Homo sapiens: one gene and its partner. The protein of the gene in region 1 purifies or fractionates together with the protein of each later gene. This does not show direct contact. Each region holds a gene or a part of one and is shown in the gene's direction. Other genes may lie near its edges.

Region 1 (3,500 bases):
TCTCAGAACGCAAGGTGGATGGGTGGAAAGGGACTTGTTGTCTGGCCTGAGGCCCTCCCGGTCCATGGCTCGTGGATTCACACTCTGAGACCTTTCTGCTTGCTTGGCAGGGCAGGGCTTAGCAGGAAAACAACCCCGTAGCCACAGGAGTTTTTGTAAATTGCACACTTAGTCATAAATGCCATTGCTCTTAGGCTAAAAACCAAACTGCTTAACACGGTCCAGGGCCCTGCAGGGCCTATCCTGTCCTCACCTTTCCCGGCTCAGGTCCAGACACCTCAGCTTTCTTTTTTTTCTCTCTTTTTTTTTTTTCAAGACGTAGTCTCACTCTGTCACCCAGACTGGAGTGCAGTGGCACAATCTCAGCTTACTGCAACCTCCACCTCCTGGATTTAAGTGATTCTCCTGCCTCAGCCTCCCGGGTAGCTGGGACTACAGGCATGTACCACCACGCCTGGTTAATTTTTGTATTTTTAGTAGAGACGGGGTTTTGCCATGTTGGCCAGGCTGGTCACGAACTCCTGATCTACCCGTCTCAGCCCCCCAAACTGCTGGGATTACAGGCATGAGCCACTGTGCCCAGCCGACACCTCAGCTTTCTTATGCTTCCTCCAGCAGCCAAGGCTCCTCCTGCCCCAGGGCCTTTGCACATGCACTTTATTCTTCCTGGAATTCCTTTCCTACTTGCCATCCCTCACCCTACACACACACACACACACACACACACACACACACACAGCAAGGGGAGCAGCTCATTGCTGGAGTCCTGTGGTTTCTTGAACTGTCGTCTTCCAGGCCCTGAGGCCAAATGCACACCAGGGTTTGCTCAAGCAGTGAGAGCCCAAATTGTTGGAATGCGCCTGAAAAATAAGGGCCCCACAGTGAAAGAATATCTCCTTTGTTTAAACTCATCCAACTGGTCTGATGAGAGGGTGTGTCCTGGTAGACTGAGGGTGACAATAGGAGGTTTGGAGCCACATGGGTGTGTCTGAGAGATGGGTTTGCACCAGAATCCCAGCCTCCCTGGCCAAGACAAGGAAGAGAAACACAAGCAGAACTGTGTGGCTGGGAGAAAGCGTCGGGAGTCAGGAGAGTGGCAGGCAGAGGCCAAATGCAGGGGCCTCGTAGGCCAGGACAGTGGCGGGGGAGCCCCCGTGGCGCCACAGCAGAGAGCAGGACAGGCAGTGGAAGCTGGAGGTGTTGGGAGGCAGCACTGCAGAGGGGACAGCCCAGATTCAGATTCACAATGCAGACCAGACATCTTGTCCCTCAGTGAGGATGGGACAGTGCTGTGAGCAGACAGGCCTGTGCCCACCCTCATGGTGCTGAGAGCCAGAGAAGGTCAGCACTGACTCAGCCTTGAGGGACACAGCATAGCCCCAGGGCCTGCTTGGTGAGCGCAATCTAGGAGGGCCTCCAGGAGGAGGGGACACTTGAGTCAGGACCAGTAGGATGACGAAGAGCTGCTGGTGAATGGGAGAGGGAGCACTGCATGGTGCTTCCCCTGGGCTTTCACAGTACACCACGCAGCAGAGGAGTGGAGAAGAGGCGTGCAAGGCTGTGGAGGGGCAGGGCCCTGGGGCCACCTGACAGCCACGTCATTGCCCCGCTAAGCCGCTGTCCCCTCTGTGCCCCATAGGCTGTGGAAGAGGTCCCGGGGTATGGAGGGAAGGCTCTCCTGGAGGGGCAATGGCCACCGTCATTATGACAGTGATGTCACTGTAGGTCCTGCAGGGACCTCCTGCTGGGAGGGCTGGAGCTTCCGGGCCTGGGCCCGGCTTAAGCAAGACTCACCCCTGTATGCAGGGCCTCCTTGTGCAGGCCAAGGCAGTGTGAGCCGGTGGAATGCACCACGGAGCCCAGGCCTTGGGAGAAAAGTGGCCCCTTGCTGGCCCTGGGGGCCCAGGCTGAGCAGGGCTAGGACCTGAGGCCCACCCGGTCAGCCAGCCCTGTGCTGGTACAGAGGGGTGGCTGTGACTGGTGGGCTGTGTGGAGGAAGGAGGTGTCAGAGTCCCTCCCAGGGGTACCTCTGAGCTTGGTGGGGTCAGGGAAGCTGGGAGTACCCTGAGGGGACTTAGGGCTGGAGGTTGGTAGGGGGGTAGGCCAGGGCAACCTGTCCCTGATGGAGTGGAGGTGGCATAGGTCCCTGAGGCTTCACCGCAAACCTGAGATGGCCCTGGAGGTCCAGGTGGGAGGCAGGAAGTAAGGGTGGAGGAAAGGTCAAGCCACCTAACCTGGCTCCCAGGTCTGGCTCTGCCACTTCCTGGCTATGTGACCTTGGGCAAGTCACACAACCTCTCTGAGCCTGAGCCTCCTGAGGCAGTCCCCCTGCCATGCTGCAAAAATGCCTCCCTGCAGGATGTTCCCTGGGGAAACCAGTGCACCTCAGCAGTGAGGCTGCCCCACCCTCTGCAAAGACCCCCACCCCAGGCTTCCTTCCTTCCAGCTGTGCTTGTCCTGCGCGGGCCCTGGGGGTGAGGTGCACTCCTGCAGGGCCTTCAGGAACCTGGGGTCAGAGGAGCTGGCTTGAGGCCAGAAAGCTGGCCCAGTCTCTGGGGTCAGCTGGGCCTCACCCACCCTGCCTGCCCTGGCAGACCCATGGAGAAAGCCTGCCTGCCTCTGGCCCTGAGTGAGATTGAATGCCAGTTTTGCAGCTGGCCACAGAGTAAGGACCTTTGAGCCCCTCTCACCTAGGAGGCAGTGGAGACTCAGCCAGGTGAGGTGTGACACTCAGAATTCCACAGCTGGAGCCCAGAGTTATGAACAGACCCCCTGCTGCGGAGAGCCCCTCATGTGACCCTCACCCAGCCTTCCGGATACCCAGGCAACCAAGTTCTCTCACGCTGCAGACAGAAAACAGGACTGGAGCCTGCGGGGAGGTGGTCCCTGTCAGCCCCCTAGACCCCTGGCCCCAAGTCCTGGGCCCTGTAGGCCACATACGAGTGGCCTGGCCCAGCCCACATGCTCGGGACACCCCCGGCCCCTCCCTGTTGCTGTGGTCTGCCCAACCAGGCTGCTCCCCAGGGCCTCTGGTGATGGAGCGTCCCAGTCCCAGTGCCACACTCCCAGAGAAGGTAACCATTCCCAGCAACTTCAGAAGCCACCCAGATGCTCCCTCCACCGCCCCCCCACAGTCATCCCCAAGGGCACCTCTGCTTCCCACACCCACCTCCCAACACCCTGCCAGCCTTCCTGCTTGCCCGCCAGCTCCAAGTCTTCCTCGAATCGCCCTCCCCAGAGGCTCCCACAGCCTGGAGCACATGGTGTCATCCTCAAGCCTGCCCTTCTCTCCTTCCCCAGCATGCGGGGCACGCCTGCCCACCATCCGCTCCCTCTCCACTCCTCCCTCCTCCAGCAAAGACCTGATGCCAGCTAAACCCAAGAGACCACTCACTCACCAGTCCTCCTCCCTTTAAGTACACGATTGCAGATGGCAGGGGGCACACCACCCCCTTGACACCTTCCCTCTGCCCACCAGCACCTTTGCGCCCCTCCCTTAG
Region 2 (4,014 bases), on another chromosome or scaffold:
CTTAATTTAAAAACATTAAGAAAAATGGCATGCATTTTCTTAGGGTTTAGTGGGTTAATTTTTTTTTAATTAAATGCTTTAGAACATCTTAACAGTTATTTGCTCCTTTAAACTCAACCAGTTACTAGAAGAGTCCACATCTTGTTGAATTATTAGTAACTCTAATAGCTTTCAAAGTATTGTTCAGGACAGAAGGCAGATTTGTTTCAGACATGATGATTTTATGGTATGAAAATCATTGGTTTCAGCCAGGCGTGGTGGCTCACGCCTGTAATCCCAGCACTTTGGGAGGCCGAGGTGGGTGGATCACTTGAAGTCAGGAGTTCGAGACCATCCTGGCCAACATGGTGAAACCCCATCTTTACTAAAAATACAAAAAAATTAGCTGGGTGTGGTGGCAGGCACCTGTAATCCCAGCTACTCGGGAGGCTGAGCCACAAGAATCACTTGAACCCAGGAGGCAGAGGTTACAGTGAGCTGAGATTCTGCCACTGCACTCCAGCCTGGGTGACAGAGTGAGACTGTCTCAAAAAAAAAAAAAAAAAAAAAAGAAGGAAATCAATGGTTTCAAACCTGATAGACATCAGAATCTCACAAGTAGCTTTTTAGAAACTTTTTTTTTTTTTTTTTTTGAGCTGGAGGCTCCCTCTGGAGTCACTGTGTTGGCCAGGCTTTTTCAGGCTGGGTGCTGTGGCTCATGCCTGTAATCCCAGCACTTTGGGAGGCCGAGGCAGGTATATCACAAGAGGTCAGGAGTTCAAGACTAGCCTAGCCAACATGGTGAAACCCCATCTCTACTAAAAATACAAAAGTTAGCCAGACGTGGTGACCCACACCTGTAATCCCAGCTACTCGGGTGGCAGACGCACAAGAATCACTTGAACCCAGGAGACTGAGGTTGCAGTGAGCCGAGATCACACCACTACACTCCAGCCTGGGAGACAGAGCAAGACCCTATCTAAAAAAAAAAAAAAAGACTTCCTAGGGTCTTGGGGGTTCTGATTTGTAATTTTTTGGGATAGGACCCAGAGCATATATATTTTAAAATTGCGCAAGTAAATATAATACCAGCCAGAGATGAGAATGGCTGGCAAACATTATGTACATACTCCTTTATGTGTATGGGCATGGTGGGGGCTCCTATAGATCACACATTGTCTTCCTTCCAGTGCTGTCTAGAAGCCTGTGTAATTTGAGATAATCCAGCCCAAGTGTGTGTGTGTGTGTGTGTGTGTGTGTGTGTGTGTGTGTGTGTGGAACAGAGAAGAGCAAGTATTTTCCCCTGGACCTTGGTAGTAAAGCTAAGAACTAAAAGACAGTAGTGGTATGGGTGGCTGGCTTGCTTGCTTTTCTCTTCTTTCTCAAACATAAATACACTTTTTAAAAATGCAAATACCATAGAAAACTTTGTATCATAATAAGCACTTGTAATAGTGGCATTAGGAGGGAGTTGAGATAGGAAAAGAGGTGTGGGGATTTGGGGTGAGAGTGGAAGCAGTCGTCTTTGGCACCAATAGAAAAAGTGGATGCAAGGACCCTAGAGACAAACTAGTATTGCTGTCTCCAAGGTTTGGCCTCTCGGCCATAGACCACCCATGTTTGTCACAGGTACTGTAGTGTTCATCTGTTTTTAAAATGTGAGGGCTAATGAAGTTTTGTTATTCTTACAAATGAAAACTAAGCTCTGTTGTTTTTTTCCCCTCTACTTCTTTCAGATCCCGGTCTCCAGAATCTCCCCCATGCCGTTTCATCCATCGCAGGTCTCTCCCAGGGCTCGTTTTCCAGTCTCCATCACTAGTCCTAACAGAACAGGAGCCAGAACTCTTGCAGACATCAAAGCAAAAGCCCAACTGGTCAAAGCACAGAGGGCAGCAGCTGCCGCTGCCGCCGCAGCTGCTGCAGCCGCCTCAGTTGGAGGGACCATTCCAGGACCTGGCCCAGGGGGTGGACAAGGTCCAGGAGAGGGTGGTGAAGGGCAGACTGCTAGAGGAGGCAGTCCAGGCTCAGACAGAGTCAGTGAAACTGGAAAGGGCCCCACACTGGAACTGGCAGGAACTGGAAGCAGGGGAGGTACGAGAGAGCTTTTACCCTGTGGTCCAGAGACTCAGCCCCAGTCTGAGACCAAGACCACCCCAAGCCAGGCACAGCCTCATAGTGTCTCTGGAGCACAACTACAGCAAACCCCCCCAGTGCCTCCAACACCTGCCGTCAGTGGAGCATGCACAAGTGTCCCATCACCAGCCCACATAGAGAAATTGGATAATGAAAAACTGAACCCCACCAGAGCAACAGCCACAGTGGCCTCTGTCAGCCATCCACAAGGGCCCAGTAGTTGCAGACAGGAGAAAGCACCTTCTCCAACAGGTCCTGCTCTAATCTCAGGTGCCTCACCTGTTCATTGTGCAGCTGATGGCACAGTTGAGCTCAAAGCAGGTCCTAGTAAGAATATACCTAACCCTTCAGCCTCATCAAAGACAGATGCTAGTGTGCCAGTGGCTGTAACTCCCTCCCCTTTAACATCTTTATTGACCACAGCCACTTTAGAAAAGCTTCCTGTACCCCAGGTCAGTGCAACTACAGCACCTGCTGGATCAGCTCCACCCTCGAGCACTTTGCCAGCAGCTTCTAGCCTTAAAACCCCAGGAACTTCTTTAAACATGAATGGACCCACTTTAAGACCAACCTCTAGTATCCCTGCTAATAATCCTTTAGTGACTCAGCTGCTTCAAGGCAAAGATGTTCCCATGGAGCAAATTCTGCCTAAACCTCTCACCAAAGTTGAAATGAAAACGGTTCCACTGACTGCAAAAGAGGAAAGGGGGATGGGAGCGCTCATAGCTACCAACACAACAGAAAATAGCACCAGAGAGGAAGTTAATGAGAGACAGTCCCATCCAGCTACGCAGCAGCAGCTGGGCAAAACCTTGCAAAGTAAGCAGCTCCCCCAGGTTCCAAGGCCCCTTCAGCTCTTTTCAGCTAAGGAGCTGAGGGACTCCAGCATTGACACACACCAATACCACGAAGGACTAAGTAAAGCAACCCAAGATCAGATCCTTCAGACTCTCATTCAGAGGGTTCGGAGGCAGAATCTTCTCTCAGTTGTGCCGCCCTCACAGTTCAACTTCGCTCACTCAGGTTTCCAGCTGGAAGACATCTCCACAAGCCAGAGGTTCATGCTGGGTTTTGCTGGCAGAAGGACATCCAAACCTGCAATGGCAGGGCACTACTTACTGAATATTTCTACCTACGGCCGGGGCTCAGAGAGCTTTAGGAGGACCCATTCTGTAAACCCTGAAGATCGTTTTTGTCTAAGCAGCCCCACTGAAGCCTTGAAAATGGGATATACAGACTGTAAAAATGCAACAGGAGAGAGTAGCAGCAGCAAAGAAGATGACACTGATGAGGAAAGTACTGGTGATGAGCAGGAATCTGTCACAGTGAAAGAGGAGCCCCAGGTTTCCCAGAGTGCTGGCAAGGGTGACACAAGTTCAGGACCTCACAGCAGGGAAACTCTATCTACCAGTGATTGCTTAGCTAGCAAGAATGTGAAGGCTGAGATACCATTGAATGAGCAAACCACTTTAAGTAAGGAGAATTACCTGTTCACTAGAGGCCAAACATTTGATGAAAAGACCCTAGCCAGAGATTTAATTCAGGCAGCACAGAAGCAGATGGCTCATGCAGTGAGAGGTAAGGCAATCCGTAGCAGCCCCGAGCTTTTCAGTTCTACTGTTCTTCCTCTGCCTGCAGACAGCCCCACCCACCAGCCCCTACTCCTTCCACCCCTGCAAACCCCGAAGTTGTATGGAAGCCCCACCCAGATAGGGCCAAGCTATAGAGGCATGATCAATGTCTCCACCTCATCTGACATGGACCATAACTCTGCTGTACCAGGTAGCCAGGTATCTAGCAATGTAGGTGATGTCATGTCATTTTCAGTGACTGTCACTACCATCCCTGCTAGCCAAGCTATGAATCCCAGCAGCCATGGCCAGACCATTCCTGTTCAGGCGT

Evidence for each region.
Region 2: the proteins of ABLIM2 (region 1) and ASXL2 purify together in Homo sapiens (affinity purification with mass spectrometry; one large-scale study listed by BioGRID and IntAct). This does not show direct contact.

What each region holds. Positions count from the first base shown.
Region 1 is NC_000004.12:7,970,314-7,973,813, reverse strand, and holds part of ABLIM2 (actin-binding LIM protein 2), read left to right. Parts: exon of another isoform or gene 1-860; intron 861-3,398; exon of another isoform or gene 3,399-3,500. UniProt on the Homo sapiens protein: May act as scaffold protein. May stimulate ABRA activity and ABRA-dependent SRF transcriptional activity.
Region 2 is NC_000002.12:25,742,178-25,746,191, reverse strand, and holds part of ASXL2 (putative Polycomb group protein ASXL2), read left to right. Parts: intron 1-1,715; coding exon 1,716-4,014.